Linked DNA regions of Homo sapiens: regions 2, 3 and 4 are each linked to region 1. The links come from fine-mapping of genetic effects on gene expression. A gene starts in region 1. Each other region holds a variant in brackets. All regions are shown on one strand. Distances are from middle to middle.

Region 1 (8,105 bases):
GGGTTCATGTTACCAAAGAACAGCCTTCAGTGGAGTGGGTGGGATGTTGCGAGGCAACTAGCCTAGCCCAGTCCACCCCTGTAACCTTGAAGATGGTGGGGGCATGACCCATGATTGTGATTGTGTAGAGAAGCACCTTCAACTTCTTCAGCATCCACTTTCTCCTCCTCTATCTCGCTCCTCCTCTCTCTGTCCTCCCCTGCTGCTTCTCAGGGCCCCAGCCCAGCCTGCAGGCTATAGGCCAGTCTGACTTGCCACTACTCAGTCAGTGGCAGCCAAGTTGTCACTGCAGGGAGGCTATATACTGCTGGCCTGTCAGCTGTCATTCACTCTGGCCATGTTGCTTTCCAACCTTCCTCCCACCTTCCCAGGTTTCTCCTGCCCCATGGTCAAAATAAATAGCTAGAGGAAGAATCTGAGGGCAATCCAGACAGATGGAGGATATGCAGGGTAAAATGCTGACCCCCAGCAAAATGGTCAGTAAGGGAGTGGGAATCCTAGGAGGAAAACGCATAGGGAAGAAAAAAGGGCAAGACATGACAATGTTCATTTATTTACTTACTTACGGTCAAAATCTAATATTCGGCTTGCTAAACACCCTGTTGAAGCTTATGCCTGAGCGACAAGGGAGTGGCCAGATGGTGCACTGATTACGCTCCCCAACTCTCTTTGCATTTGGCACTTATGTTCAGACCATTGCTGAGAAGGCCTAATTTCAGTGCTACCCAATTACAGCTCCTGAAGAGAAAAGTGTGCACTGAGAACTTCAAGGGGAGTCTAGGGTAGGGCATTAGACCAGAAAATGGAAAATCAGACCTTTTCACCAACTTACAGAAGGTAGCTGTGTTCCATTTATGCAGCAGTCCCTTGGGTGCCTCTGAGCCGTGGGACATGTACATTCTCAAAAGCAAGAGGCCACACCAGGGATGAGAGATGGCCACTCTTCCTGCTCTTGAAAACTGCCAAGAAGCCAAACCAGTGGTAATTTAACTTAACAATTGTTCCTCTCCATTGCAAGCTATCCATTGCATAAAGCCATCTCCTTCTAACCTGGCAGATCACCGGAGAGGGTTAGGTCCCAAAGGTGACTTGGTGAAGCCCTGCCTTCCCTCCCACAGAAAGGGCTTGCTAATTCAGTGGACAGGAAGGTAGAGTTGAAAAAACTGTCCTTAACTTACCCTACTGAACTCAGTAGGTGGCTCTCTGCAAACTGTGTAGGGATTTTGAAAACTACTCCTCAAGCTGACTTATCAAATTTCTCCTAGACTAATCCTGTAATCAGTGGGACCCCAGCAAAAAACTGAGCCCCTGCCATGCAGAGGCTCCTGGTCCAACGTCTACATTCCATCTGGCAGTCATCTGTGGCTTCCACCTTTCTTTTCCAATAGGACTCAGTTCATTTATCTCCACCAGAGACCTCTGCCATCTACCTCAGAGGTCAGAGACCTTTATGAAGAGAGGTGCCAGGGCCTGACTCCAGTCCTTCTGGAAGGGGTGGGGATGGGGTGGGGTCTGCAATGAAGAGGGGCTGGCCCAGGCAATTCTTTCCCAAGTTAGCTGGAAGCTTGCACTCAGAAATCAGCCAGCAGTCATCTTCTGCCCCCATTGGAAACTTTCTGGCCACACTGCTCCTTCTCTCCCCAGCTTTCTGGAGGAACCGATTGGCCCTGGTACCTGGCATGCCCCAGCTGTAGTCAGCATTTCCAGCCTACTCAGTCCCCTTGCTTTCAGCAGAAGTCCCACACTCTCAGGGGCACTGCATTTCCACAGACAGAGGATTCCCCGTGTAAAGTGCTGGGATCCAAAACAGTAAAGGACAAGGGCTCGCGTAGCCCCCCTACCCTCTCACACGTCCCGCGTGCTCAGTGAGGGCACCACTGGAACCTGGTTTCTCAGGCATGGCTGATTCCTAAAGTGAATGCGCTTCAGGAAACTGATGATAGTTTCTTTAAATGATTCTCTCCAGCAAATAACAGCCAGACCCTAGCGGTAGTGGGTAGGGGGTCAGCAAAGCCCCGGACATTCTCCCCTCCCCCCTCCCGGCCACTCCCCAGCACAGCGGCCCAAAACGTGCGGAGAGAAGCAAGCGGGAGGACGCTCAGACACTCCTGTGAGTGGGAGCCGCGTCCACGCTCCAGCGGGAAGTTGCACAGGTTTAAAGCCTGTAGGCACCACCGCCGGCTCCTGCCGCCGCGTAGGTTGCGGTCGGCTGCGGCGCGCTTTCTGAAGTGGCCGAGCTCCTAGACAGGAGCAAAGAAGCCAGCGGCTCGGCCATTTAGCTCCCGACGCGGCGATGAGGACGGCGCCGAGGGCCTGGGGCTAGGTGGGCGGGTAGGGGGAGTATCGCCCAAGCCGTCCTGGACCCAGCGCGTCCCCAGCCAAAACCCCAGGAGGCGGCCACCAACCCCAGGGTCGGGAGTCCCAAGGGCACGGGGCCACTCCGGACGGCGCGACCGGGTCCAAGAGCAGGAAGTTCCAGCGGTAGGGCGACCGTGGGGCGGAGGCGGGGGTCGGGGAAATGGGATCCCCTCACTCCCCGAATGGAGGGGAGGGGAGGGGCGGAGAGAGGCGGGGAGAGGGTGGGCACAGCGCTAAGCGCCGACCGGCGCCCCTAGAGGCGGGGTAGACGCGGGGCCGCGAGCCACCGGGGCGCCGTTTTTACCTAGCTCTTCCTCGTCCTCCTCCGGGCCAAGCAGGCGGCAGGGAAGGCGGCGGCGGAGGCGCACGGTGCGCCGGTACAGGCTGTCTGTGCGGCGCCCCAGGGCCAGCAGGTGCCCCTCGAGGTCCTCGAGCAGAGCCAACGAGTGGCCACAGAGGTCGGCGAGCTGCCGGAGCAGGCTGAGCGCTGCCAGGTGGCTCACGTCGCGGAGCTCCGCCAGCTGCTGCGGCGGGTTGCGCGGGCACAGGCGCTGGGGTACCACCGTGCGCCTGTAGAACGGCATCCCGGCCGCGGGCGCGGGCGCAGGGGACCAGTCTGGCGGCGCGGCGGGCTCACCCCGAGCAGCGCCCCTGGCCCGAGCGCCCCTGAGCGGCGGCCCCAGCTCCGGGTGTAGCAGGCCCCTGGGCGCGGGCCGGAGAGCGTGCGGGCGCCAAAGACGACGGGCGGGTAGGCGGGCTGACGGGTTCCTCGCCTAGAGCGCCGGCTCCCCCGGGGCTGCACACTCGCCGGAGCCACCAGTCCCTCTGACTCTGCTTCGCCGGGCTCCTCCTCCTCCTCCCCCCTCCTCCTCCTCTCTTTTCTCCTCCTCCTCCTCCTAGCTCTGCTACTTCGGGATCCCCCCACCCACCTTTTTTTTTTTTCTTCTTTTGCGGTCAGAGATTCGCAGATTAACGCTTGATCCGGGAGAGGGAGAAAGGGAAGTAGGAGTAAAAAGAGCGAGCTGGAGCGTGAAAGAAGGAATGTCTGCGTGAGGGGGGACGTAAGGTACGGTGTAGAATGTGTGCCCCGGTCCTCCTGAGGAGCTCCACTCCCAGTTCTGATGGTTAAAGTTATTTTTTGCTTTTTTTTTTAACTTAAACTTTTTCTTCATAATTACAAAAAAAAAAAAAAAAATTCAAGCACACCCGCGCCCACACCAGCGGGTAATCAGCGAAGACCGACCGAATAGTTTGACTTTATTGATCTAGATTTCCTTTCCCAAACGTACTCGGTGCCACGCACGGGCTAGACTAGGCTGTGAATACAACCTTCTAGCACCCAGGAGCTTGGAAATAAGGACCAAAAAACCAAATATCTTATTCGACTGTTCAAGAAGACAATGTCTCTAGGGAGTCCCACAGTGGCTGGACATTGTAAAGCCATTGGAGTGGATGAATAGAAACAAACCCATTTTCTGGAACAATAGACTTAATTCAGATAGAGGGACGCCACTCCATAGTTTATGCAAAAAGAGAGCCCAGGGACGCCTCCTTCTGGTAGGGTCCGCCAGCTGGGATAGGCTCTATCCCTGGCCAGGCTGGGCTGCTGGGATGCTCTCCGAAGAGGGTTACAGGAGCCGAGATGTGCTTTCAGTGCGGGCAACCCTGTGGTCACGGCCTGATTTCTCTCCATTCCAGAAGGCAGAAAAGAGGGGGCACATTATTGTCCTCAGAAAACCAGAGTACGTGAGCATATGTCCTCATGCACTTAGGACCTTTCCACTCAGAACGCTTATTTTCAACACACTGAGCTCCCATCTGACTCTCCTCTAACCCACTTCTTTGACTTTGGTGTACTTCGGTTTCTTCCTTCTCTTCATTCTCTTCTCATTTTTCCTCTTACAAATGTTCACATCCTTATAATCCTTTATAATCCATTAGCAAAACACTTTTTTTTTTAAGAGACAAGATCTACCACTGTCACCCTGGCTGGAGTGCAGTGGTGTGGTCACAGCTCACTGCAGCCTTGAATTCACTCTGGGCTCAGGGGATCCTCCGGTCTCAGCCTCCTGAGTAGCTAGGGCTATAGGCACGTGCCACCACTCCTGCTAATTTAGTTTTTATTTTTTGAAGAGACGGAATCTCCCTATGTTGCCCAGGCTGGCCTTAAACTCCTTGGCCCCAAGCAATCCTCCTGCCTCAGCCTCCCAAAGCACTGGGATTACAGGCATGAGCCACCACACTGGCCAGTAAAATACTTTGAACAGAATACCTGCATCTACATTAATGATTCTAAGCGTGGCCTGTTTTCATGCATTCCTTCAGATAATTAATTGTCCCTGAAGCAGTTCAAGAAGGTTCTACAACTAGTATATTTCAAAATTGCTAATAGATTCTAAATGTTCACACCACAGAAAAATGGTAAATATGTGAGGTAATGGATATGTTAACTAGTTTGATTTAATCATTCCACAATGTATTAATATATATACATCAAACCACATCGTGCCCCATAAATACATATAATTGTTTGTCAATTAAAAATAAAGTAAAAGCGTAATCCGATTTCCCTTTTCAGCATATAGTTGTTTCTTGTTTAGTAAATTAGAACATGGATATTAGAAAAGTTGGGTTCTGATTAAAATAAGAATCAACAAATGGGCAAAAGACTTGTACCCTTTCTGAAATGTAAAATCCAGTTGCAGAATAAAAACCCCAAATTCTCGATTTGGCAAACTCAAACCTGAGCCAAGAGAGCAACTGGGAGGAAGCAGGGACTTGGCTGGACTCTCCAGGGATACTTTTCCTTGACCTATGAGCTGTTTAGACTGATCTCTGCTCTGGAGAAGAAGAAATGAGGTACGAGCAGATTGAAGGAGACTGTGTGGTCAGAGCTTCACTGCCTGAGCACAGCAGGCCTGGACTGGGCCTGGTCGCTGAGCCTCCCTCACTACTCTGATTCCTGATGCTGATGAATCTTTCAGAGATCTATAATAACAAGCCCAATTCCAAGCAAACCAGCTTTGGCCCTACCCCCTTTCCCCCAGCCTAGTCTGCTCTCACTCCAGCCTCATCAATGAGATGGCCCTGGCTTTCGTCAAGGAAACATCAAGTATTTGCAATGGAGTCACTTCACAGCAGAGTCCCTCCTCCCTTGCCAGGACTAGAGTGGGTCTGCATGTATGATGGAAGAAGCCAAGGGAATATAAGTTGTCACCTTGCTTCTTATCCAGTCTCTTCCCAACAGGAAAGGTGAGACCTCGAATAAGGGGCTGCCTTGGGTTCAAGAGGTGAGCAGAGATGCAGAAAGCCTCAGAGGAAGGAGCGTAGGGAGCCAGGCTCTGGTATGTGGAGGGAAAGTTAGAGTTCTTGAAATACCGTGCTCCAGCCAAGCTGGCTGGGCAGGAAAGCAGCTAGGGTAAAGTGTCCTCTCCTGTGCTCCCACATCACCCTCTAGCACAGTATCTGGCACAGTGTACTGGAGGGTGATATGAACATCCTTGTTTAATAGTAATACTAATATTCCTTTGTAATAATATTGTCTCCCCCACATGATTGTTAGCTGCATGGCAGCAGGAATCACTTCTGTCTTGTTCACTGCTGTATGCCCAGTGCCAAGCCCAGTGACGGGTACACCACAGGTACTCTGAAAATGCCTGCTGAATGAATGAATGAATAAATGGAGGATTATAGGCAGAGCAAGATATGAAGAGCCTTACTAAAGGATTCAACTCAGCCGAAGGGGCTATAGAGAGTCGTTGTGGATTCTGGAGTAGAACATTGCCTGACACAAGGAAGGAAGTGCTTAAGAACTTTTCATGTGGAGGCCAAGGCTGCTACGCCCCACCTGCGCTCACATCTCCAGAGCCAAGTAGCCAGAAAGTGCTCTGTGAATTCAACATTTGCTTTGATTTGCCTATAAACCTTGGCATTTCACATTCAGAAGGAGAGAGAGAAAATGAAGGTGCAAAGAAGAGAAGGGGAGGCCCTTCACAGCCAAGCCAGACCTGAAAGTGCTGGATGCTTCCCACGCACCCACCAACTCCCATGCTCCAGGCCTGCAGCAGTTCATCCTGACACCAGATTTTGGAGTTGCACTCTGAGCCTAAGCCTAAGCCCCTGTGGAATCAGGTATGGATCCGACCTAGAAACAGAGACAGAAGGAGTAGCCAGAGAGGCAGGAGGAAATGGGAGCATTGACCACTCAAGACCAGTAAGGCCTCTGCTTTCCTTCCCATCTCCCAATCTGCCTTCCTAGCTGCTGCTAAGAACCTAGAATTTCAATAAAAATGAACTTGAAAGAATAAATAAGTGACACAGGATATGCCATTTCTCCTTCCTTGAGCTGGCAGTTTCCACAGCTGCAAAATGAAAATTTATGAGCAAACCTCATGTAACCTACCCAGCTTCCCAGTACAGCCCTCAGTCTTATTTCAGGATGAGAAACAAGAAAACTGCCTCCATGTTGCTACCTCTCAAATATGCCAGATAGTAGCAACTTGGTGGCTAAGAAGAGATGTTGGCTTTCTCTTTGATATTCCTCTACAGTCAATTGTTTTATCTAAGTTTTTTTTTTTTTTTTCTGGTTTTAGGGACAACGTCTTGCTATGTTGCCTGGACTGAACTCGAACTACCCAGCTCAAGCAATCCTCCCAAGTAGCTGGAACTACAGGGTCGCACTGTGTTTTATCTAAGTTTTAAGAATATATATTTCACCCCACACCCTCTTGCCATGAGACTCAATAAAAATATATATACAGGCAGTGGGGGTATGAAAAGGCTGCTCATTAATCCTAACTCTAACATTCTGTTCTCTGGTTCTAAGTGTCTGTACCAAGAGAAATTAACAAGAATTGGCAAATACTAGATTGAATCGACTCTCTTTTTAAATGTCATTTACCCTTTTTGGTATAAATGCATGGCTCTGCAGTTAAGAATACAATTAAACTCTCTCTCCTCAGATAGGCAGCCCAGTAGCCCAAAGAAATCGAACTGCCAGCTTTTCAGTCAGATAGAGCCTATAATTCAATTAACAATGCAGACAGTATCAAGGCTAATCAATGCTACACTCTGAAAAGAGAGGGATTTGTGGATTGAGTTTATCTTTATAATGATTATTAACAATTTATCAAAACATATAGAATTAGATAAATTATTAATGAAGCATGCAAAGTTAAAAAAAAAGAGTGGGTACATTGAGTGGATCAGTGCTACAAGATTTGAGAGGAAAGAGCATGCTTCTGCCCTAGAGGCAACAGAGGCTTCGCTGAGTGGGAGGGATGTAACCCCAGAGCTGGGCCTCCAAGGGTGGACTGGAAACTTACATGGCCATCAATCATCTCCTAGGGCAGTAAGCGTGTGAGCCAAAGACGGCTCAGGGTCCTAAAATAAATTCCTTTCAGTCCAGTCTCAATGCTTCACACACATGGGGCAAACCCTTCAAGAATTCCGTGAGGAAATAAACCTTTATTTCAAAAATAAACTTTGACGTTGTTTGAACTTTGACCCTGACTCTGAGCACAGGCTGAGACTTCGAAAAAAGACTTGTGGCGTTATGAAGGAAACTATGGGAGATTTCAGCAGAATGTGAACAAATTCTTTTTCAGTCCCTCATCTTCATGTCCTATGTAGATCCTCCTTCACCACCAATCCCTCACCCGCCACCCAACCGTCATGTTTTACCCGCTCTGTCTTGTTAGGATGAGACTATAATTAGGAACATTCGAATGTTGTTGCATTTAATAGGT
Region 2 (8,105 bases), 200 kb before region 1:
AAGGATCTAGGCAACTAAGAAGCTGGTGGAGAAAATATGGGACCAGAGAAAAGCACTTCACCCCTCTGTTCCCGGCATCCTTGGGGTGATGCCCCGTCCTGTGGGTTTTGGCTGCATCTCCTACTGGAATGGGGTGACTTTCTCATTGAGCAGAGAACTCTGCTTTGCTTTCTGAAGAACTTCTCTAACTCTGTGGAGTTTTTAATAAATAAGAATGAAAAGGTGGAACAACCAGGGTGTTTAACAACCCCAGCTGAGAGGCCACCAGAATTGCTTCAATTCCTTTCTGGGGAAGTTTAAGTTAGCCATATAAAGCAGCACACGGAAGGACAGAGCCCCAGCCTTTCTCAATGAAGACCCTGCCTGGGCCAGGTGAGGTGGCTCATGCCTGTAATCCCAGCACTTTGGGAGGCTGAGGCGGGCGGATCATGAGGTCAGGAGTTCGAGACCAGCCTGGCCAACATAGTGAAACCCCGTCTCTACTAAAAATACAAAAATTAGCCAGGCATGGTGGTGCCACCTGTAATCCCAGCTTCTTGGGAGGCTGAGGCAGGAGAATGGCTTGAACCTGGGAGGCGGAGGTTGCAGTGAGCCGAGATCGCGCCATTGCACTCAATCCCAGGCGACAGTATGAGACTCTGTCTCCCAAACAAACAAACAAACAACAACAAAACCTGCCTGAATGCACACTTTGGAGCAATGTGTTTAGGGGGGCCAGCATAAGTCAAGAGTCAAGTTCCAGTTCCAGCTCTGTTTCTTCCTAAGCCCTGTGACCTTGGGCAAGTCAAGTCACCTCCCAGTGCCTCATCTATAAAATGGGAATAACAATCACACTTAATTCACAGGGTTGTTTTGAAGATTAAACGAATTAATGTTTGTAAAGTGCCTGACACACAGCAGGTACCAAAATAGCTCATTCATTCAACAAATACTTAGCCCTTTCTGTGTACTGGGCCCATAAGCTTGGGGAATACAACAGTGAACAGGACAGACACAGTCCATGCCCTCACGGAGTTCACACTAAAGCAGAGGAGATCTGAATGATAAGAAGGAACCAGCCGCACAAAGAGAAAAAGAGCACACTTGGCAGGGGAAACAGCAAATGCAAAGGCCCTGGGGTGGAAAAGGATGACTGAAAGGAGCCAGTGTATGTGCGATGTATGAGGGGAGCATGGCAAGAAAAGATGTCACAGAGGTGGTCAGGGGCCATATTACTTCAGAGTCTTATGGGCTGCGGTCAGGAATTGGGGTTTGATGCTCGACATACCTGAAAGCTGTTGGAGGGTCTATGGTCTGGGGCGGGGAAGGGAACTGTGTGGTGTGACCTGACTGCTCTCCTTCACTGCCTACAGTGCCGGCAACCTGGGCTCAGCGTTTCCTTCTTCCCTGCCGGACCCGCATGTCCTCAAATTTCTGGAACTAGAAAGCCCATCCAAGGCCTCGGGATTTCACGTCTAGATGCTCACTGGAGAAATGTGTGGGATGCACACACTACTAGCCTGCTGCAGTTTGCTCAGGCTGCTCTGTGTGCAGAAGGTCTCTGTGCTCAGTGACCACTCTTCTGGTCCCGCCCCCAGGCAGCAGAGCGAAGGCTCTGGAGCAGACGATGTGGGTTCAAATCCTGGCTCTGTCGCTTATCAGCTGTGTGACCCTGGGAGATTCACGTTGCCTCTATGGGCCTCTGTTTCCTCATCTGTAAAATGACGTAAGAATAGTAACTACTTCCTAGGGAAGTTGTGATGACGCAGTGAGTGAATGTGAAGGCAACACTTCAGCCTGGCACCTAGGAAGTGCTGCACGAAGCCTGTGGACAGGCAGAAGTTTGGTGTCTTTGACTTTGAGGCTGGGGTGAGTTAATGTAAGGGCAAGTACTGCAAATGCTCCAGAACCCTTAACAAAGGGCAGCTACTGCCATGGCTAGGATAACACTGCACACCACTGTGCCACTGGGTCCCGGTTTTTACTTTCCACCTTGAGGAATCACCAAGACCTGTCAATCTGACCTCCTAACTCCCTCTCAAATCTGTTCCTTCTCCCACTCACTGGCACCTCTCCAAATCAAAGCCCTGTTACTTCTCACCTAAACAATTACAAGAACCTCCTACCTGCTGCTCTTCCTCCCTCAGATCTTGCTCTCTTACGATCCAGCCTCCACGGGGCCAAGAGAGTCATCTTCTAGACACACACAAGTCATATCAGCTCTTCCCTCTGCCTCAAAACCATCAGGATAAAATGCCAGTTCCTCAGGCTGGCTGACAGGGTCTTCCCATTCTGGCCCCTGCCTCTTCTCCGCTTCACATGCGCCACTTCCTTTAGGAGCACCATTCATCAGCTGAATTGTTCCTTTGCTCTAGAATGCCGTTCTCCCACCCCTGCCCTCTTTTCCACCTAGTAGAAGTCTACCCTTGCTCCTAGAGTCTCTATGACATTGTCCCAACTTCGCTTTTCCTCATGGGTTGTTCCTTCCTCCAACACCCCCCCGGGACTCTGTCTTCTGTCTGTTGGTGCACATGAGTCGTCCTCCCCACGAGATGGTGAGCCCTGAGGGCAGAGGAGACAGCAGAGCAGAGCAATGACATCATCTATCATTGTGTAACCTCAGCACCCAGCTTAGCCAAATCAAGGGCTCATGAGCACAAACACTGGCAGGGCCCAGGCAGGTAACACCAAAGAGAGAAGCAGGCTAAATGGGCCCTGCCGTGAACCGTGGAACTCCCTGCCTACCCACAAGGGGGCCAAACCCCTTAGTATTAGCTGATTCATCCATTGGGACCAGATCTTAAGATTTTTTAAGAAAGTGCATTGGGAACTAACTTACATTATTTATTTATTGTTTATTTATTTATTTATTTATTTAATTTTTTTGTATTTTTAGTAGAGACGGGGTTTCACCGTGTTAGCCAGGATGGTCTCCATCTCCTGACCTCGTGATCCACCCACCTCGGCCTCCCAAAGTGCTAGGATTACAGGCATGAGCCACCGCGCCCGGCCTTTTAAAAAATTTTATTTATTTATTTTTTATTATACTCTGAGTTCTAGGGTACATGTGTGCAATGTGCAGGTTTGTTACATAGGTACACATGTGCCATGTTGGTTTGCTGCACCCATCAACTCGTCATTTACATTAGGTATTTCTCCTAATGCTATCCCTCCCCCAGCCCCCACCCCCCGACAAGCCCCGGTGTGTGATGTTCCCCCTTCCTGTGTCCATGTGTTCTCGTTGTTCAACTCCCACCTATGTGTGAGAACATGCAGTGTTTGGTTTTCTGTCCTTGTGATAGTTTGCTGAGAATGATGATTTCCAGCCTCATCCATGTCCCTGCAAAGGACATGAACTCATTTGTTTTTATGGCTGCACAGTATTCCATAGTGTGTATGTGCCACATTTTCTTAATCCAGTCTATCATTGATGGATATTTGGGTTGGTTTCAAGTCTGCTATTGTGAATAGTGCCACAATAAACATATCTGTGTGTGTGTCTTTATAGTAGCATGATTTATAATCCTCTGGGTATATACCCAGTAATGGGATGGCTGGGTCAAATGGTATTTCTAGTTCTAGATCCCTGAGGAATCGCCACACTGTCTTCCACAATGGTTGAACTAATTTACACTCCCACCAACAGTGTAAATGCATTCCTATTTCTCCACATCCTCCCCAGCATCTGTTGTTTCCTGACTTTTTAATGATCGCCATTCTAACTGGCATGAGATGGTATTTGTTTATTTATTTTTAAGCTGCACTTCTGAGTGTGGAAAATTCGTTTTTTAAACCATGCAGAACAAAAAAACCTGAACTTCAGGCCACACTTGGTCTTTCAGCCTATCATCTTGCAAACTCAGAACCTTTGTGTGTGTATGTGTGTGTGTGTGTGTGTGTGTAATGAGGGAATGAATGAATGAATTCAAGTTTCTTTTTTTTTTTTAGACAGAGTCTTGCTGTCGCCCAGGCTGGAGTGCAGTGGCGCGATCTCGGCTCACTGCAGGCTCTGCCCCCCCGGGGTTCACGCCATTCTCCTGCCTCAGCCTCCTGAGTAGCTGGGACTACAGGCACCCGCCACCTCGCCCGGCTAATGTTTTGTATTTTTAGTAGAGACGGGGTTTCACTGTGCTAGCCAGGATGGTCTCGATCTCCTGACCTCATGATCTGCCCGCCTCAGCCTCCCAAAGTGCTGGGATTACAGGCGTGAGCCACCGCGCCCGGCCTCATGGATTCAAGTTTCCTAGAGCTACTGTAAATTTCAAAGGTTTGGGGGAAATTACACGTAGTCAGTTCAGTTGCTATTTGGTTTGATTTTTTGGCGTAAGGACATGAACGTCAAAATCGAAAGTCAAGTTTTTATATTTCTCTCTTTAAAAATGAAGCCCAACCTTCTTTCACCTGGTGGCTATAACAGTATTGCATTTCCTGGGTAGCTCACAGGCCTTGTGAGCAGACCTGTAACCTCAACTGTGGTGACATCCCTCTTTGAGATGCAGGTCACCCCAGAAGGAAGGGAGGGATGTGAAAGCCACAGAGACTGTTTCCATGGTGGCTGATTTGCTTAGTTTGGTAACCTCTTATAAACAAACTGTGCAGAAGATGACAACGGCACGGTTCCCTCCAACTTC[C/T]GCCTACCTCATCCCACTTATCTTAGCCCCAAGTGAGAGAGGTTGGGGGAAAGACTGAGGACTCTGAATTACAGGCATCAAGGACTCAAATTCCTTTTAGGTCCTGACTCCCTGTCCCTGGGACTCCTATACCTGGCTTTGGGCTGCAGGGAGGGACTTGCCCAGAGGCCTGCAGGGTGGGAGGGAGCCAGTTGCATTTCCTGAGTGACTAGAACACCAGACCTTGAGCTGCTTGATCCCCCATTCAGGACCAAGGCACTCAGTCCCCCAGCTACCAGAGGTGTTGGTCCATGGCTCACGGTTGAGTCTCTTCTCCAAGGTAACAACCCCTTTCCTGGGGGGCAGCCTGCATCCAAGATCTCGTTAATAGATGGGGTGGGGTGGGAGGTGGGGGAAGAAAGGCCCAGCTGCCTGGCCTCAACTGGGGCCATCTGAAGAGCATCTCAGCTCCAGAGCTTCCCATGTTATCAACTGAGGTCTCCAGTGTGCCCACACTGCAGGTGAACTCCTGTCTCTGACCGATCCTGCTCCCTCACAGGTGCTGTTCTAGAAGGCAGTTCCCAACAAACCTTTTGCAGGCAAATCAATATCTCCAAATCTGTTTCTTGGAGATGCCAGCCTATGACAATTCCCTGCCTTGGCCTCTTTTCTCTCCCTGCCTTTTCTTCCTTGTTGAGCACAATCACTCCAAACGCCCCAAGATCATCTCAGAGGATGATCCTCAACTCTTTCCTGTTGCCACAGCCACTCTCCCAGTCTGCCCACTTGCATTTCTCAGAGCCTGGTGGACATCTTCACCTGGATACCCACTTTTTTAGTCTCAAATTTAATATACTTAAAATAGAACCTCTCCTGCTATCCTAATCCACTCTTCCTCCTGACTTCTGTATTTCTGTTAATGAATCCCAGGCTGGAGACCTCAGCGTCACCTTGGGCAACCTCCTGCTCAGAAACCTTTAGCATCCCCTCAATGTGAGCAGAACACATGCCCATGCTCCTTATCTTCATACTCAAGGCCTTCCTTGTTGACTCAAATGAGGCCGATTTCCTGACAACCCTCTAATCCAGGATTTCTTAACAGTTTAATGGCTTGGACTCCATCAGGAGCCTAATGAAACTTATGGGCCTCTACTTGGAATGTTTCTACAAGCACAAAATAAAATACATAGGATTACAAAGGAAGTCAATTGCATTTAAAGTTATCTATATATGTCTTAAAATTTGCAACATAGTAATATGCATTTCGTTATTAACACATTAAGTAACATGAGCTAGTGGCGGGTCCAGTGACTGCCATGATTTTGAAGTAGTCGTGAATGGGACAGTAATTTAAGGCACCTGCAGCAGCAGTAATGAGATATAAAAACATCTGTGGCTCCTGTTCGAGACAAAGTCACAGGCTAATGCCACTGTGATGTGTGGCCTGTGTTCATAATGGAAGGAAAGCTAACTTTCAATTACAGGTTAATGAAGACAAAGTTATAATTTTTTTCTCATTTAAGTAAATGAACTCCTGGTCAAGCACTTCTGTGCTATGGGGAGTCCACATTGTAGCTCAAATTGGATATTCACACTTCCCTGAATGAATGTCACGCATCCCACATCCATCCTGGCTGATGCTGGAAACTGGTACTCGGGCACTGGGTCAAGTCGGCCTCACTCTCCACATGGACCTTCTGCCACAGGCTGGCCAGGGCTTGGGGCTAAGAGCTGTGCAGAGCACTGCCTGCCCATGGGCAGCCCTGGGAGGGTATCTTCTCTGGCTTTTCTCCTCTCAAGTCCCAGGCCCTGTCTGAGTGAATTTACATGTTTCTGATGGCCCAACCAAGATTACCCAGTCAGTTGGCTCATGGGGTAGTGCACAGCCATCAAGCTAGTTGTAGAGCATCTAGTTGAAGATGCCTTCACCAAGGTGCCATTTGGAGCTGTGAAGAGGCCACTACTCTGCTTGGATCCTTCTCCTGAACCTTGGACCTGGGACTCATCCAGCTCTACTCTTACCTTGCTACCAGATTCTAAATGTTCTGCAATGCATGGGACTGTCCTGTACAATGAAGAATTGTCTTACCCACAAGGGCCATGATGCCCTCGGTGAGAAACACTGCTTAGGAAGTTTATAACTGTTTGTTTAGTGCTTCAGTAGTCCTTGGCCTGGGGTGCCAGCAACGGAGGCAGAGCAAATCTGTGGGCACTTCTCTGGACTCTTCCCAGTCCCCTCTGGCCTGAAATCCCAGTGACCTTTACATCTAGGATTGGGATTGAGGGAGCGATGCATAATATGGTGAGAACCTTCCCCCACTCCCTCCACTGTGGCCACTGCAGCTATCAGTTCCAAATCCAAGCTTTCCCAGGCGTGGGACTTTGCTAGGTCAAGAGGAGCTACCTGGGCTTGATAGCTGCCACTAGGGAGGGAAAAGTTGGCAAGAAGCTGTTTTTAGTTTCCTCCAGATGTCTGCTGGCCTAGGACCCTTTGGCTCTGTCCCCCGGGAAGGAATGTTTGTCCTAGGCAGCCTCTGCTTTGCTACTGGAGCTAGGGAGTGGGTACTCCCATCTGGGGCAAGAGAATGTGCCAACTCCTACTGTGCTTTTGCGGGTTAATCATTTCCAGGTAGGAGCTGTCACGAGTCACCCTGGTGTTCACCTCCATTGCTTTCCATGAACCAGTCTAGTTTCCTAAAAATACCTGCTCCCTATTTCCCAGGCCAAAATGCTCCAGGAAATGCCTGCAGCCCACGATTGTCAGATAAGTGGCTTCTTCTGTTAGTTTGACCTGTATTCTGATGAAAGGGATTACTAATACTGCAAGAAACAATATTCTGTGACTTACAAATTATATCTGTTAAGAATAATGAATACTTATATAGGGCTATTTATTATACTTTATAGTTTATAAAGGCTACTTTATATATTAGGTTGAACCATACAAATTTGCTGGCATTTAAATGCTTTGGACAGTTTCATAGGATTCAACCTAACACATTTTCTCATTTATTCCTCACCATAATGCTGGGTAGGTATTTTTAGCCCCATTTTACAGAGTAGAGTACTAAATCTTAAGAGTGGTGAAATGACTTTTGACTAAGATTATATATACAGGAAATAGCAGGGTTGAGACTTGAACTAAGTCTGTCTGATGCCAACTCTCATGCTCTTGGTTCTCGAGGTAGGATGATTCAGCCTGGAAGACCACTGCAAGGCTTCGAGACTCCTAGACTACCCTCAGGAATCCCCTGGCTGGTTTCTCTTGTCACCTTTTCTTAGTGGGAGAGATCAGCAGGTGCATAGATGCCTGCAAATAGAAGGTTCTAAAGTGATGAGGTGACAAGTTCTAGTTTTAAGGCTTTGGGAGCCCTGAGGAGGTACAACAAAGACAATATCCAAAGCATGTTAATTCACCCATGCATTTATCCGTCCAAGAGAATGCTACTGGGTAGCTCCCATGCACGTGACAGGCTCTGCACTAGGTGCTAAGTTAGTGCAGAGCCTAGGCTGCCA
Region 3 (8,105 bases), 140 kb before region 1:
TCCAACATTTGTGCAGCTCCCTGACATGCAGACCAAATCACTCCTGCAATGTGATGGACAAAGACAGTGTCCACTCTCATGCATAGGGCCTTAGCAAGCCAGGTCAGGTAGCAATCCTGGTGTCCTTTACAATGAGGATTTTCTGGACAAGGAACTGGAGAATCCTAACAGATCATAAAGAGTTAAGGGGCAGGCAGAGAAAGCCTTTAAGAACTGGGAAGCTGGCCGGGCACGGTGGCTCACGCCTATAATCCCAGCACTTTGGGATGCCGAGATGGGTGGATCATGAGGTCAATAGATCGAGACCATCCTGGCCAACAAGGGGAAACCCCGTCTCTATGAAAAATACAAAAATTAGCTGGGCGTGGTGGCGCGTGCCTGTAATCCCAGCTACTCGGGACGCTGAGGCAGGAGAATCGCTTGAATCGGGAAGGCGGAGGTTGCAGTGAGCCGAGATTGCATCACTGCACTCCAGCCTGGTGACAGAGTGAGACTCCATCTCAAAAAAAATTAATAACAATTTAAAAAAAAAGAACTGGGAAGCTGTCAAGCCCCTGGTGCCAGAAACAAGTTTTCTAAAATTCTGTTTTTCACTTGAAAGTTCAAGTTTTATCTTTGGTAACAAATACTGTGAGCTGTTTTCCTTGAAGCAACAGGCTCATTTTGTTCATCTTTGAGAAAAATGTCCACCAAATACTCAAGTCTGACTAACCATAGTTTACCTGTCAATTGTTCTTTCAAGTGAAAATGACGTTCCAGGAAAAAGGAGGCCTGTTGAGCTCACACCTCAAACAATTGCACAGTGCTCTTCTCTAGACAACCATCTCACTCAGCATGCAGCAGAAGTGCTTTCTGTGTTCTTCCTGTTTCATCACACAGGATATTAAAAAGACATCAACTCCAGGCTTGAGATTTAATAAAAATTGCCATTTCTTACTGCTTTATCTAAGCTACTTTTCAGTAAGATTGGTGGCTTTTCCCCCCTTTTTCTGAGTATGTAGTGGTGAAAAATACAAAATACAATGACTGCTAGTACAGGCTGGTGCCACTGCCTTGATTCACACTAAGGTGGCAACAGTTTTGCAAATGGTGCAAAAATCAACCTCATGAAAAAGGCAAATAGTGTCCTAGTGTTATCGTAGAAACAGCTCTGACCTTGAGCATCCTCCAAAAGAGTCTCAGAAACTCTGAGGGGTCTGTGAATTGTACTCTGAAAATCTCTGGTTTAGAGAAATTCTTGCCCAGGTCCCTAGGAGCAAGTCGAGGAAGGTTCATTGCAGCATTATTTGTGGTCATGGACAGTTGGCAGAACCAAGATGTACAGTCTCAGAGGAAGGGAGAAGTAAAATGTGGTGGATGAGTGCCAAGTCAGACAGAAGTGATCAACGAGATGTGCACATAGCAGCACCGAAAGGCCTCAAAACAGAGGGTTGAGGGAAAAAAGAAACAGAATATGATCTATGGATCAATACTATTTATGTAAATTAAAAGCACATAAACACAGAAAACACTATGTAATTTTCAAAGACATTTCCAACAGCATGTATCAAACCATTAAAGAGGAACTGGGAGTGGAGATTAGAGATGAAAGGAAAAATAAGATAAAAAAATTTAAGGACCTTGCATGGATAGATAATGGTGTGCACAACAGTATACTTAACTGTGCCCTTGAATGCAAACAAGGACAGAATGAATGGGAGGCAGAAAATAAAGTACCTTTTCAAGAGGCTTGATGGCAGAAAGAAAGGGGATTGCTAGAGAGAGAGGTTCACAGAGAGAAGTGGGCAGGGATGTCTGGCTTTGCCTTCTAGCAATCTACCCAACGTGCTCCAGCCTGGGTTCCCAATGGCCTCCTGGTGTCTGAAGTTCACAGAATCAGGCCCTGGTAGGGAAGGGCACTGAAGGACTCCATACTTGCTGGCTCCCAATTTCTCTGGGAAGTAAGAGATGATATCATCGTCTAAAAGTAGGAGATGGTAGGTAGTCCGGCCTCAAGAGCCAGGGAAGGCGTAAAGCAGCTGCCATAGAGACCAGACAAAAGTAAAAGTATTTGTAGGCAGCACTGATGGCTCAGCTGGAGATTGAGGGAAGTCTGGGATGGATGGGAGGGAAATTGAAGAATTGAATGCCTGGTGGCCTTGATTTTTCATTCATTTCTTCAGCCAGTCCATTGGTCAACAAATATAATATTTATTATCTATTACATACCAAGGTACTTGGGATACCAATAAGGAGTAAAACAGGCTTAGTTTCCATCCTCATGGACATGCCAGTCTGTGTGTGAGCGTGTGTGTGTGTGTGTGTGTGTGTGTGCGCAGACGTTAAATAAGCACACAAATACATATATTATGAAGCAATAACAACTGCAATGAATAAAGGGTACAGGGTGCTGAGAGAGTATATTGGTGAGGCTTGATATAGTCTAGGAGGCCTGTTGGTAAATAGACACTTCCATCTTTGTTTTCAACAGCTGCATAATGCCCCACTATATGGATGCTCCATAGTTTACATAACCAGTCACCTACTGTAGGGAACACAGAATTTTCTCCCTTTCTCTTTACATCATAACCAATGTTTTGATGCACATCTTTGTACATGCATCTCTAGCACTCGTTTGATTATTCCCTTAGTATGCATTTCTAAGAGTAGAATTGCCACATCAAAGGATGTATACATTTTTAGGCCTTTTGAAACATATTGCCCAACTGTCCTGCAGAAAGGAGGTACTGATTTACATGGGAAAATGTCCGCTTTTAAAAAAAGGGTTAATGGTGGCCAAATCTAGGTGGTAATAATTCCGTAAAAAATTTTAAAGGCTGCATAGTATTCCATGGTTATTTACACGATTTTTTTCTATTTTGCCATTACAAAAAAAGCAATTTACTTATTTAACAACAACAATAACAAAAGTGGAAAGTTTTGATAAAAGAAACCACCTACCAAGGTTAGAATATGCTTTCATCTGTTCAAGTAATATGCTAGGTGATAGGACTAAAAAGGTGACATCTTTTTTAGAATCTCCAGTAAAGAAGTAGATTTTTAGTCTCAAGGTTCGGAACATTTGCGTTTCTGTTAAGCAGTTGATTTGCTTTTATCTATGAATCTTATAACTGATCATACCTCCCTTTTTGTTATCTGCCATGAAAGGTTAAAGTCAAATTTGGGACCCACATTTATCAAGAGGGGACTTCCTGAAATTCACTTTCTATCACGACTTCTTCACAAGTTACCCTTGTTTTCTCTCTGCCTCATCTTCCTCCCTTACATCTAATTTAGGTTCTCTCCAAGTATAGGATGTATCTTATAAGCCACCTTAAACCCTTTTTGGAATAAGTCAAGGTGGAAATAATTTTTTACAAAAATTAAGCTAAATGCTCAGATCTCCCTCCAACACAGTCCTCAAGAGGCATAGGCAAGACACAAACAGAAAGATGCCTCAAGAAAACAACAAAAACCTAATTGGAGGTCAATCGATTTCTGGGCTACATGCGTCAAAGCTGAGGTCTTCAGCTTCCAAACACGCAAAGTAATTTAGCGCTCGCGTTCCCATGGCAACCGTGCCAGTGATGGAGAAGATGCAGCAAGCCCGGCCTGGCGGTTGCTGGGGAACTCGGGCTGTTGGCTGCGTGACTTTGCTCAAGTCTGAGTGTTTAGATGCGCAGGGACTTTCCATTAACTGGGAGCTCTGGATTCGGACCTAACTGAAAATGTAGTTGCTGAGGAGAGGTGAAAAGTGTACACTGGAAATGGAGTGACATCTAGGTAGCCTCC[A/C]ATACTTGAAGTTAGTTAGCACTTTCCTTTTTCTCTTTCTCTCCCCGCTTGCTAAAGAAGGGGGTTAGGAAGCGGGAGACGGGACAACAGGCAAAGGGATCCACCCCAAGCTGTCCTTTTACAAAGGGGCTGAAAGAGTGACGGGGGAAAGGGTGATCTCATTAGCATATTTAAAGCTCCAGCCTAATGACTGCTTTGTGCCTCAACTGAAGAAAAATTGTGCTAACTGCAGGGGGAGGGGCATCATGGAGGCTAGAAAAGGGGATCCCAAAAGAACTCAAATGGGGTGAGGTCGATGAATGTCATCCTCGCCACTTGGGGAGAATATAGATGAGTATTTATTTGGTCTGGGAGGAGGCAAGACTTTCTAAGCATTAAAATCACAAAGGAAAATGTCAACATATTTGGCAGCATCATTTAAAAAAATGTTAGCACATCCCAAAGCACAACAAACCAAAAATCAAAGAGAAAATAGCAAATTGGGAAAGAAAAAGATATTTGCAGCATAGGACAGAAAAGGGTTAATATCTTTACTATATAAAGAGCTTTAAGTAACAAACTCTTTACCAATAAGTAAACAGACACACATATTTTACTTTTCTAATCAAGAAAAAACCAACTCTATTTCAGAAGAGAGAGAAAGAGTCCAGAAGAGCATGTCATTCTCTGAAAGGGAAGCTATTAAGAACGACAGAATGCGGATCAGCTCAGACAACAGCTAAAGTGGCCCAGGGAAGAGTTTGAAAATGTTCTGCTTATTGCACTGGAGAGATGGGAGTGGAGATTGGGGGGTTTCCTAAAGCTTACTGCACCAATCAAAAAGCAATCATTTTGGAACAACCTGTCAAAATAGTACTGGAACCTGTCATTGACATATGCAAGCAGGAAGGCTCTACTTCCCACCCACACAGTGTAGACAGAGGAGTATGGCAGAGAAAGCGTTGCAGCATCTCCTTGGAAGAGAGGGCTATGGAGTATCCCTGGCACCTACAGCAGAGCTGGCCCAGAGTAAGCAGGTGTTCAGTGAGGCCTTGTTGAAGAGTTGTGAGGTTCTCTTCATGATGGCCAAGTCCTTAGGTGGAGTCCTTGGTTCCAAGCAGCCTTCAAGGAACTCACCCACTCTCTTTGAGACCCCACCAAGGAGCTCGCTGTGAGTGTCTATCCCAAGCTCAGGTTCTGGGAAGGAGAAGCAGACTTATTCTGTGTTGCTGTAGATGGTAGGAGTATTAATTTCTTCCACAAACATTGCTTGAGGCCAATTATGTGCTGGGAATGAGATGGGGGTGGAGGAGTGGACCCCAAAATGAGGAGCGTATTACAAACAGTTCCCAGTCTATTGGGAGAGACAACATGTAACTTATGAAAGAAGCAGCTTTTGAGATGGGCTTTGAAGGTTGGGTAGGAGGTCAGCACGCAGAGATGTAGTCAGACAGCATACAAAAATTGGAACTGAAGGCAAAGACATGTGCATGGCGAGATGATCCCTCGGGCCCTTTTCTGTTCTGCCAGTCTACGATTCTGAACTTCAGCCTCATTCTCAGCAATAATATCTCTGTGAAATCATGGATTTCACAGGTATGCTGGTTATACTTTTCTCTCATATATAGAAAAATAAATATGCAAGCATTCAAGTAAAAAGAAAAGTTCATCTGTACCTCTTGAAGGCATTTCAATTAGTGTGGTGGAGTTTACACAGTTCTAGGAAACTGTGCCAGAGGTCATAAGGAGTTATGGAGCGTCCTGTCCCCAGAATGGAGAAGATTGGAGGTGGAGAGAATGGAGACAGGCAAACTGGTCAGGCGACTGTCGCAAGAATCCAGTGAGAGGATGGGCCCCCTAACTTCTCAGAAGAAATGGCTGAGAAGCCTGGGGTGCGCGGGGTGAAGCAGCTGATTAGACCAGAGAGAAGGCTCCTAATTCCTGGTTTGCTGCACTCAAATCCTAACGAGGCAAGGCTCACATTCAATTCTGGTCATTATGTTCTTCTCAACATTGTTTTCCATTTCCCTTACCCAATTTAGGATGTATTGTTATGGCTGTTTAAATAAGGTGCCAATCCGACTGGGCAAGAGCAGGAAATGTTTCCACACAGGAAAGACTCTCATCAGATCCCTATTGCCTTTTGCAAATGGAAATCAAGCCTCCTTCTACAGAGGGCATGAGGGCTGAGTCACAGCTGCACCGTTAACATATTAGTAACACAGAAAATCCTCCTTTTCTGTTAGCAGCTTGGCCAGAGAATGTCTACAGAGGGGCTGGGGGGAGCAGAGGGTGAAGAAAGGGGTGGAGAGAGGGATGGCTCAGGAGAGGCCCCCACCTACCCTTTTCATTTGCAACCTGGAGGGGGTCTTCCCTTCCCAAACACAGGAAGATGACTCATTTAAAAACCACCAGGGTGGTCAGCCTAAGTTGGATAGACCAGGCGAGAGTGTCGTGTGCTCCTGGAGGAATGAGAGGGACATGGGGGAAGCTGGACTGGAAGAGGAAGGAATGGGGAGGACTGCAATGTAGCCAGGTCCTTACTCCATCTCCTCCCTCATCCCCAAGCCCATCTCTTTCAGTTGAGACCCTTTGCCTTGTTCCAGAAATCATGTGGCCTCCCAGGCAACTCCCAGGGCGGTTGGCCTGAAGGTCACAGGCTCCTGGCCTCTTGGCACCTCTGTGACTTATCTGAAATATGGTTCTCCTCCTTCAACTGTCCAAGACTTTTAATGCCCGACCTGCCATGCAAGCAAGCTCGCCCTGAGGCCCCTAGTTGGTGCCAGGCACTGGGGACAGAAACTAGGAATTGAGCATCCAGTCAGACAGGTGTGCCTCGGAGGACTGAGGAGGGCAACTTTCTCAGAGGATGATAACCACGCATGTCACCCTTCACCCCATCACATTGGAAGTGCCACAAAGCCAGGAGCCTCATCTGGCTCAGCCACCACTCAGCACCTAGTGCAGAGTAGGTATGTAATACACATTTGTTTAGTTTGTTGAAGGAATTCTAAGCAACAAAGGAAAACGAGATCCATTTTGGTTACACTTACTTTCCAAGCAAAAGAGTCAAGAGGCTTTATGTCTGATTTGTATAAGCTGCTGGGATAAATACTATAATAGAGAAATAAATGCTATATAAAGTACAGTGGGAGCTGAGAGGGGGACTCTGCCTGGAGTTATCTGGAGAGGCTTCCAAGAAAGCTGTCATTGAGGCAAGTTGTGAGAAATGAATGAGGTTTTCCTAGGTGGAAGTGAACACTGAGACTAGGTGTAGAGAATGGTGGCAGGACCAGAGGTGTGCAGGCAACAGGTGGGGACATGTTGGAGAGAGACCCGCAAGTGGAAGAATCTGGAGGAACCAAAGACTTCCTGAGTGTGTGCTGAGGGCAGGCAGCAGGAGATGATGTTGGAAAGGTTGCCTGGATCCATCTGTGGAGGGCCTTAAATTCCAGCCAGAGGAGTAGATCGGGAACATGTTGTGGAGAAGGAAACCTTAAATAGGGTTGATCTGGCAGTGAGGTAGGAGAAGCAAGAGGAAGGAGGGCTGGATAGGAGATGATCACCTGGTATGACAGTGTCTAGGAAACTCGGTCACTGTGAGAACAGAGTGGGAGGGCCTAGGGTGAAATGTTGATGGGGCTGTAGAGAAACAGATTCTCTCAGATATTTCTGGCAGAACTGTGCATCGGTATAGCCATCTGAAAGAGCGATTTTGCAATATCTACAGATACCCCTCAACTCAGCAATTTGACTTCTTTCTAGGTACATACAACTGAAAATTTCTGTACATGCATGGGGAAATATCTACAAGAATGTTCATTGTAACATAGTTGGTAATGGTAAAAAATAGAAATAATCTAAGTGTCTATCAGTAGTGGATTAAGAAATCAATTTTATTATTCATCTGATGGAATACTATATAGCAGTTAACATGAACAAACTACATCTATGGGTGTAAAAGGGACAGATACCAAAAAACATAACACTGAGTGAAGAAAGCACATTTTAGAGTTACTTCATGTAGTATAATAGCACTTATGACAAATTTTAAAAGTGCAAAACCAAATAGTACATACCATTTATGGATGCATAAACATAGCCTGGATTTGCATCACAGCCCAGACAATAAAAAATAGGACTGAGGAGGAGAATGCAGGGACGTCGGTGGCATCTGTAACGTGGTTTTGGTTTGGTTTGGTTTTTGTTTTGTTTTTTTTTTTTTGATAGATGGAGTCTTGCTCTGTCACCCAGGCTGGAGTACAGTGACGCAACCTCAGCTCACTGCAATCTCTGCCTCCCGGGTTCAAGCAATTCTCCTGCCTCAGCCTCCTGAGTAGCTGGGATTACAGGCG
Region 4 (8,105 bases), 210 kb before region 1:
CCCTCATGGGGGCCAACCCCTGGCCTGCTGCTGTGCTTCAGTGACACAGTAAAGCTTAAGAGGGTGGCTGCCTCCTAGGAACTCCTGGGACTTCTAGGTACAAACTCAGGTGCCCTTATAAAGAGACCCACTGCTTGCCTTGAGTCCAGAAAGCACTGCTTCTGCAGTGAAAAACACACACTTACTATGTCAGTTTTGGCCATAAAATGCCAGCCAAATCCACTGCTGGCCTGAACTGCCCCTGGACACTGGACTTTCTGCACAGTGACTGGCAGCAGAGCAAGTGCAGCCAGGGTTTGTGGCCAAAGGGAAGAAAGCATAGTAAATTCAACCTCTGTTCCTCATGGGAGTCTGACCGATAATCTCAGGCGGACCTTAGGATCTTGGGCCTGGAGGCAAGAGAAAAAAGCTGGAGGAAGAGGAGTCGCAGAGAAACCCAGTCCTCTGACTGGTTTCTGGTGAGGTCTCTATTCATCAGTGGGAGGTAAGATGCCCTTTTCATTAGCGCTTTTGTTTCTCAGCCTGGGGATCAGTGGATTTGGATTCCTATAACCTGTTGCTACCTTTTAAAAAGATCCCCTCTCTCCAAAGAGAAAAGTAATACATAATCATTAAAGAAAGTTTGGAAAATAGAGAAAACTATGAGGACAAAAACCCCCCAGCCATTCAGAGTCCCACCACACAGAGGCAAGCACTATTAACACTTTGCTGCTTTCCTTTCTAGTGTGTTCTTGCTATGTCTTGTCAAAGCTGAGATCACCCTGCCAGTTCTTGATCAGCAGGATTTAAAATGGCTGCCACCTGTGCAGTCATGCATACTGAATAATTCATTTAAGCATTCTCCTAATTTGTTGGACCTTTCAATTGTCTGGTTTTCCCCATCCCCACCAGGGCAGGAGTAAACAACTTTGTAAAGAAAATTTTGTCTGTTTTTCAGCTGATTTTATCTGATTTCCTCAAGAGTGCATTCCAGAAGGGGACCTGCTATTCTTCGAGGGGACCTGCTATTCTTCGAGGCAGTGGACCCTGTTTGCTGATGGTCAACACTCTGGCCCTGCTGCCCCATGTCCCTGTGGAGAAGTGTGAAGGACGGGTGCCTTAAACCCACACTTCCAGGGACCCTTCAGCACAGGTCCTGCCTGTTCCCATGGTGCTTCTCACCCTGAACCCTCAGAGCTACAGCCAGGGATAGAGCAGATGAGCAGTGAGCTGGTTTCCACCCTCTGGGGCAGGAGGGGCTTGGGCTTCCCTTTGACCCTCTTCCTTCCTTTCCCAGATCTTCAATATTTGTTGTGATGTAACAGCCATAAGAGCTGTAAGAGGAACTGTGGGCTTTGGGAGCTTTCTTGGGTTGAAAGAGGGGTGGGGGGAGGGGATGCATGCAGGGGTATGAAGGCAGCCCAAGGTCTCCCAGAGGCTCGGGAGGAAACCCTTTTGGAATACATGTGTTATTGTTGCATTACTGTGTTGTGAAGATAAGAAGCTGCTCTGTATGCTAAAGCTTTCTCTCCTCAATAAAAATATAAAGGGTGTGTAAAGATTGTGCCTCTTTGTTATTGAGCAAGCATAGATGGGTACAGAGTAGGCATAGGGTACTTCCAAGGTCCCCTGCCGGAGTCAACCCTACCCTGAAGTCTTGAAATCCTTAGACAAGGAAACCAAGGGCCGGTGAGGCTCAAGGGACCTGTCTACAGTTCTGTGCATTTGTGGATGGAAGAAATTGTTGGGAGGGAAGTGGAAGCACTGGGCATCTTGAAAAATAGCATTCGTTCTCCCGGGGACTATGGGTGGCCCAGCCCTACAGGCACGCACGGGCATGCATGGGACTTTGAGTGAAGGAAGAGAAAGAGGCCAGGTTGGCTGGGGAGGGCCCTTCCGCTTTTTGGCACTAGGTGGCGCTATGGGATACCAGTGAGTTAGCTGGTGATGAATCACAAGTCCCCAGAGCAGTCCATGTAAGAGGCCCTCCAAGCAAGATCTCATGGCTCCTCACGGACTGTGGGGTCAGAAGAAACTGAATCCCATTCTGGGATTTGCCCAAGTTTCCCAGCATGAATTGGACTTTTTTTTTTTTCCAGGGGAAGTGGGTGGGAACATTCATTAAGCCTCTGCTGCTTTTGAGTGCTGTGCCAGGCACTTCACATCTGTTATCTTATTTCATTCTGATAATGATATCCTGGGGGGAAAGAACTAACTACCCTTACCCTCATCTTAAAGATGAGGACACTGAGGCTTAGAGAGAAGTCACTGGCCCAAGGTTGACAGCTAGTGAGTGGCTCTGTCACAGCCCTGCAGCTGCCCATTAGCTCTGGGGACACTTAGCACCTCTCTGCCCCCACTCCGCTGGCCCTGCTGTCTAACAGGCCAGGCTGGTCTCCTAGTTCTGCCCTGTCCTACCCCCCCTGCCTCCAGCTTGCAGGATTCCCGTGGGGGAAACAAACCCTGGTTTCAGAGGCACATTTGCTTTGTCCCTTTAAGAGGAAGGGAGGGAGGGAGGAAACCATGGTATTTCTGACCATGTGCCAGGGACTTTCGCCAACATCATTTCATCTCCACAATTAAGTGAGGCAGGTGATGCTGTCTCCTTTTAGAGCTGAGGGACCTGAATCTCAGAGATATTAGGTCATATGGGGGACTCCAGGTCTTCGTGACTCCCAAACCCATATACATTCTTAACTCAAATACACCGTGCTTGCTATCTCCCAGGAGAGACTCCTGACAAGCTTGAAGTCTCAACCTGCCTGGATTCTGGGTCTTTGCCAAAGCAACGAAGCACGCATCAGGTGCACCATCTCTGGAAGCTCTGGGGGAACCAGCCAGGTGGCAGTTCTAAGTATGTGGTTGACTGCCCCTTCTAGGGAGGAACAGGGTTATGGGGTCGTGGGCTTCATCAGTGAGCACTAGGACTCCCCAGTACTCTTCAGGGTGCCTGACAAGGTCTCCAGCACCCAGGGGATTTCTTATGACATCACAAGTAGTGATAGGTGAGCCCAGATTGTGTTATGGCCAGAGAAGGTGGAAAAAAAGACAAACAGAGTCAGCCTTGCCCCAACCCTGAAGCAGGAAGCACTGTGGGAATGGGGAAAAGAACCCTGGATTCCAGTCCAGCCTTGCTGCTGACTCTATATGGGCTCTGGCATGAGTCTCATCCCCTCTCGGGCCATGGCTTCTTGATCTGTCTAGTCACTGTTGAGTCCCTGGGGCCCAGCACACTACTTGGTACACAGTAGAATCTCAATCCTAGTTTGGTACATAAATGAAGAAGTGAGTGAATAAATGGGCCACTGGATGGAGACCTAGAGGCAGCCTGCTAAGGGCATCTGCAGGTGGTACAAAGCTTGGAGGACTAGAAGATGTCCTCTAATGTCCTCTAAAAGGGAATGAGGGGCCAAAAAACTCTCCCTAACCTGGAAGGATGCACTGAAATGACCTTTACTAGGGGCTCATCTGAGATCCTGCAGTCAGGTTCAGAAAAGCAACTGCAGAAGCCTAAGTGGGGGAGATGTGGCTTAGAAGAAGCTTGTGAAAATGAAAATCTGAGGATGTGAATTGACAGGAGATCGGTCAGAATCACAGACTGACCTGGCTGTCAGATGCGCCAATGCTTTCCTGGGCTGCTGCAATAGCAATGTGAAATCCTTGAGATGGGCAGGGCCCACCTGGGGCCCTGGCTGCCCTGTGGAAGGGGACAAAGTTGCACCTCACAGAAGCCCTTTGGCTTGCCAGGAGTAAGAAAACATCAGAATAAAAGGAAGGAAGGAAGGAAGGAAGACAGTAGAAGGGTGACAAGGATGGCGAGGGTCCTAAAAACCCTCTCCTGGGCTGAGCGATGGAGGAAGGCAAGGAAAATCTTGCTGCCTGTGAAACAGCTGTGACTTCCCCACGTTCATTCTGTAAGTGAGGAAACCAATCAGGCAAGTGGCTTGAGGTCACTTGCCCTGTTTGCCGAGTTTGACTGTGAACCCCAGCAGTTTGACATCCAGAGCCCATGCTCTTAACCTCTACTCCCCACCTGCACCCACGCCGTTGGAAACAAAATCTCCAGGAATGTCTACATCTAGAAAGCTCCCTAGGCAATTCTAACATCCAACACAGCCCAGCCTAGAGCAGCATAGAGCTTTGGGAACTAACTAGCCCGTGTGACATTTAATGGCCAGTTTGGTTCTGAGCCTTCCCCTAGAGCTCCCTGGAGCAAGAACCGACCCACAGATCCAGTTCTAGCACAAAGTAAGTGATCAAGAAACATAGCATGCGTGACGATCCCTCAGCAGGTACCATGGTCTGATGTGAGCTTGCCCCTCCTGGATACCTGCCTCAGACAGCAGGTGACACCCATTTGAGAGAGATGTGCCACAAGGTAGGTGCAGAATTCTGCCCCCGAGAAACCAGGTCCATAGGAGCCAAAGCCTGTGCCCTTGACCGCCAGAAGTGGCTCCTGAGGGTGGGGGTGGACTCTTCCAGGGGATAAGGACAGGCATTAATCAGGCAAGAGACCACCCCCTTAATGGGAGGTGGGGAGTGGGCTCCACCTCCGGCCAGCACTTCCTGTATCCTGCCCAGACTAGGGAAAGCTCGGCAGGCCACTTCTCCCCAGGGACTCCAAAGACAGAAACACAAATACCAGGGCTCTCGGTTGCCCTGGTAACAGCGGGACCTACTTGGAAGAAAACAGTTTCTTAAAGGCTTAGGAGGGTGGATATTTCCTTTGACAGAGAGCAGGCCCTGACCTGCTCCCTGTGTCCCCTCTCCCCTTCCTGCCTGCCACACATGGGGTAGAGCGGGGCCCCTCGCCTCAGCAACTCTCCTGATGGGGGGTGGGGGTGGTGTGTTTGTGTGGGAAAGTAGGGCCCAGGCTTTTTATTCTGCTCTTGCAGTGGGCTGTTCGGGTGAGAAAGAGGCTAAAAGGGAAGATGTCAGCAGGTGAACTCATGGCGAAGGTCCCACGGCCTGGGGAAGCCTT[G/A]CCTTGTAGGATCTCCTCACATGACCAAGCTAGAGAAGGGCGGGTGCCTCCAGCGACTGTGGTCTCCTTCACCTCTTGCATCATACAGATGAGGCCTGTTGGCTGTGAGGCTTGCCAGAAAGAGTGTCCCCAAATTGATGACCTCTCCACCCACAGTTCAGCCCTTCCTCCTCTCTCACCTGAGCTACTGAAGCAGGCTCTAGTCTCTACCTGTTCTAATAGGTCCACCTTCAACATGCCTGGGGGTGGGGGCCGTGGGCCTTTGAATTCACACACCTGGCCTTGCTGCTCCTCTACAAAACCCCTCAATGGCTCTCCTTCCTCGTGGGAAGACTTGTAGACCTGCTTTTGGCATTTTCTTCCCTATCTGCTCATTAATTATCTATGCCATCTCATCTGCCTATGCTATCCTTCTTTCCTCTTCTACTTAGCCCAAATTTCAGACATCTTGAATTACTTCCTGCTTTTCTGTACATACGAGGCCCTTGCATGCCTCTGGGCCTTTGCACACTCCATTCCCTTTCCCTTAAAAATTCATGAACATTCCTGGCCTCACTCCAACTGGCAATGTTCTCCTCAGTTCCAAGACCACTTCCTCCGCGAAACTGCCTCCACTCCCCAGACAAGCCCCTGCCCTTCTGAGTTCCCCTCAGGCCCTCTAACCCCGACCCCACTGGCCTGTGAGGCTTGAGATCTACTTGGGAGCAGAGGCTGGTCCATGACTCCAAAGTGAATTTGTTACTGCAAGACTGTGGTTCAGTGGGAGAACATGGACTTGTCCTCTTTGCAGATGAAGGCTGCATTGGCAATGGCCTTTGGAAAGAGGACTGGCCCCCTGAGACCTGACTGAGGACTGATGGTATGCACGTGGAGCTAGGAGCCCCCCAGATAAGGTTGGAGGTGTGGACAGTAGGGAAAGCAGGGGAGACAAAGCAGGAACTTGCAGAGTTGCTCCTTCCCAGCGAGCACCCTGTTGATGGCTTCCATTTCTCTGAGGGACATCACCTCCTCTCAGTAGTGTGCTAAAGAGTGACCTCCACTGGGCTTGAGAGTCACATAGACCTGGCTTTGAACCCTGGCTCTGCCACTCCCTTGCTGTGTTCCCTTGACTTAGTAATTTCACTTTTCTAAGCCCCAGTTTCCTTTTTCTGAAAATTGAGATAATAATAGCATATATTAATGAGATGATTGATATAAACCAGCAATAACAACAAAAATAGCTAATAGTGCTTACCGTGTATTGGGCATTAAGTGGTTTACATTTCTTAACCCATTGAATCATCACAACCCTATAAGGTAGGTAGTGTTATTGTTCTGCCTTTTGCAGATTAAGAAACTAGGCACAGAAAGTTTCTCCTGACCAGTGTCACAGCACTAACATGCAAGTGCTTTTGACCCCTCCAGTAAGATAGGCAAAGTTCTGTGGATCAGAAGTGAGGCCCATGGAGCAGGAGAGTTCCAAGATCCAGGGCAGGGTCTTGGTCTTTTTTTAGGTAATGGACGCTTTTGGTAGTTTGGTGAAACCTCCGGATTCCTTCTCAGAATAATGTTTTCACGTGCATAAAATAAAATACATAGAATCACAAAGGCAAACAATCATACCGAAATGGTTAGAAAAATATTTTTTAAATTTTGTGATCTAGTTGTGTTACTACTTTCATAATGCGCTAAATCACAAGATTTAGTGGCAATTCTATAGATTAGAAATGTTGAAGTGGTGATGAACACAAATGATTTTTTGAGATACTTACAACAACAGTAATGTGATATGAAAATATTTGTGATTTCTGTTGGTGATAAAGTCACAGATACCGCTAACACTACTGTGGTTTGTCACTTACATTCCTAATTTGAGAAAATGCTAAATTGTTGTTTGAGGTTCATGGAGAAAAGATCAACTAATCTTCCCATCCAAGTTTGTAGACCCTCTAAATTCTCTCCACACACCCCTTGGAGGTCCATGGAGCTCAAGTTAAGAAGCCCTGCCCTAGGGTGTCAGAGAAAAGACAATGGCAGCGCTGTCAGCTACGGGGACAAGCTGGGGGCTGGCAGAAAGACAAGTGTGTGGTTTCTTTTTCAAGAACTGTTTACAGAAATTGTGAAGTCTGGCAGCTCCCTCTTCCTCTTGGTCCTGAGTCAGCAGCCCAGGGTGGGGCTGAGGCGGTCACACTTGGTTTGAGTTTCAAGCTCACTACATACTCATCCCAAAGAGTTGATTTGTTGCCATTTCCTTACCATGGAAATGTTGGTGGGCTTTGCTCCATTTTAAAATGGGGACCTGCTTGCACACACAGATTTTTCATTAGTCTGGAAATAATCTTTAAGTGGACATGTGGCTCTAAGACATCTTCAGAACTAATGAATGTTTCCACACTAGCACCCTAGCCAGGCTTAGGGCTTGCAGAGGGAAGGGGAAAGATGACCAACTGGGCCAGGGACCCCAAAACACTAGCCAGAATTAGCACTTGCCCAAAATCCCCAATTCTTTTTCCTGACTTCCTGACTTTACCGTCTGTCAGCTGAGTCCCTGCCAAATAGAGAAGCACAGTCCTGGGTGCCGTGACCAAGGAGACATATGGCCCAAACAGCAGTAGGCCTCTGCTTTTCTAACTTGCCTCTGTTCCCATTCAAGACTCAAAGCGAGTGGCACTCACGAAGAGCAGGCCCCAGGCGTATCCACAATGCCTTGCGTGGGGGTCCTGGCTGGCCAGGGCCTGCTGCCTTCTGCTCTTCCCCAGGCCCTCATATTTAGTCACAAATGAGCAACACTTGGCTGGTGGCCATATACTAAAAGGGCTGCAGCTTAATTTCCACAGTGAGAGGGTAGAATTTTGACAGCCTCATGCACCATAGCCACTGGCTAATAAAGAAGCTGGTTCAGAATGAATCTGCCTCAGTTAGCTGAGGAGACATAACAATATGCTTTGGAGGTTCAGGCTGAGAGCTCCACATGCAGGAGTGTAGAAAAGACTCATTTTCTTGACTGTAAAAGACATATATGTATGTTCTTAGGTTGGCCAAGGCTCTCAAGTATAGGCAGAAGGAGGCGGAGGGCCAAACGGGAATTCAAAAGAAATTTGGTTAGCTAGATTGACCAAAAATCAAAGAGAGAAGACCCCAATTACAAAAATCAGAAGTAAATGAG

Which allele goes with the higher level. Alleles are on the strand shown, and positions count from the first base shown. SD is a standard deviation of normalised expression in the study named. Not every link is listed here.
In carriers of allele T in region 2, the expression in whole blood of the gene that starts at base 3,185 in region 1 tends to be lower than with C alone (small effect, 0.16 SD a copy in GTEx).

The links. PIP is the estimated chance that this variant, and not a neighbour inherited with it, causes the effect.
Region 2: its variant is fine-mapped to the expression of NHSL2 in whole blood (TOPMed, PIP above 0.99).
Region 3: its variant is fine-mapped to the expression of NHSL2 in whole blood (TOPMed, PIP 0.94).
Region 4: its variant is fine-mapped to the expression of NHSL2 in whole blood (TOPMed, PIP above 0.99).

Annotation. Positions count from the first base shown.
Region 1 is chrX:71,905,925-71,914,029 of GRCh38, reverse strand. NHSL2 (NHS like 2) reads right to left here and starts at 3,185. Exons shown (of 8, transcript NM_001013627.3): 1 at 2,663-3,185. The coding sequence starts at 2,942.
Region 2 is chrX:72,102,028-72,110,132 of GRCh38, reverse strand. The region is part of intron 1 of NHSL2 (NHS like 2); the gene reads right to left. Among named protein-coding and RNA genes, the nearest start is that of RTL5, 26 kb to the left of the region's middle. The variant C/T (reference allele first, on the strand shown) is at 4,611.
Region 3 is chrX:72,050,761-72,058,865 of GRCh38, reverse strand. All of the region lies in intron 1 of NHSL2 (NHS like 2), which reads right to left. Among named protein-coding and RNA genes, the nearest start is that of RTL5, 77 kb to the left of the region's middle. The variant A/C (reference allele first, on the strand shown) is at 3,772.
Region 4 is chrX:72,120,543-72,128,647 of GRCh38, reverse strand. All of the region lies in intron 1 of NHSL2 (NHS like 2), which reads right to left. It overlaps RTL5 (retrotransposon Gag like 5), which reads left to right. Exons shown (of 1, transcript NM_001405151.1): 1 at 1-1,538. Among named protein-coding and RNA genes, the nearest start is that of RTL5, 7.3 kb to the left of the region's middle. The variant G/A (reference allele first, on the strand shown) is at 4,961.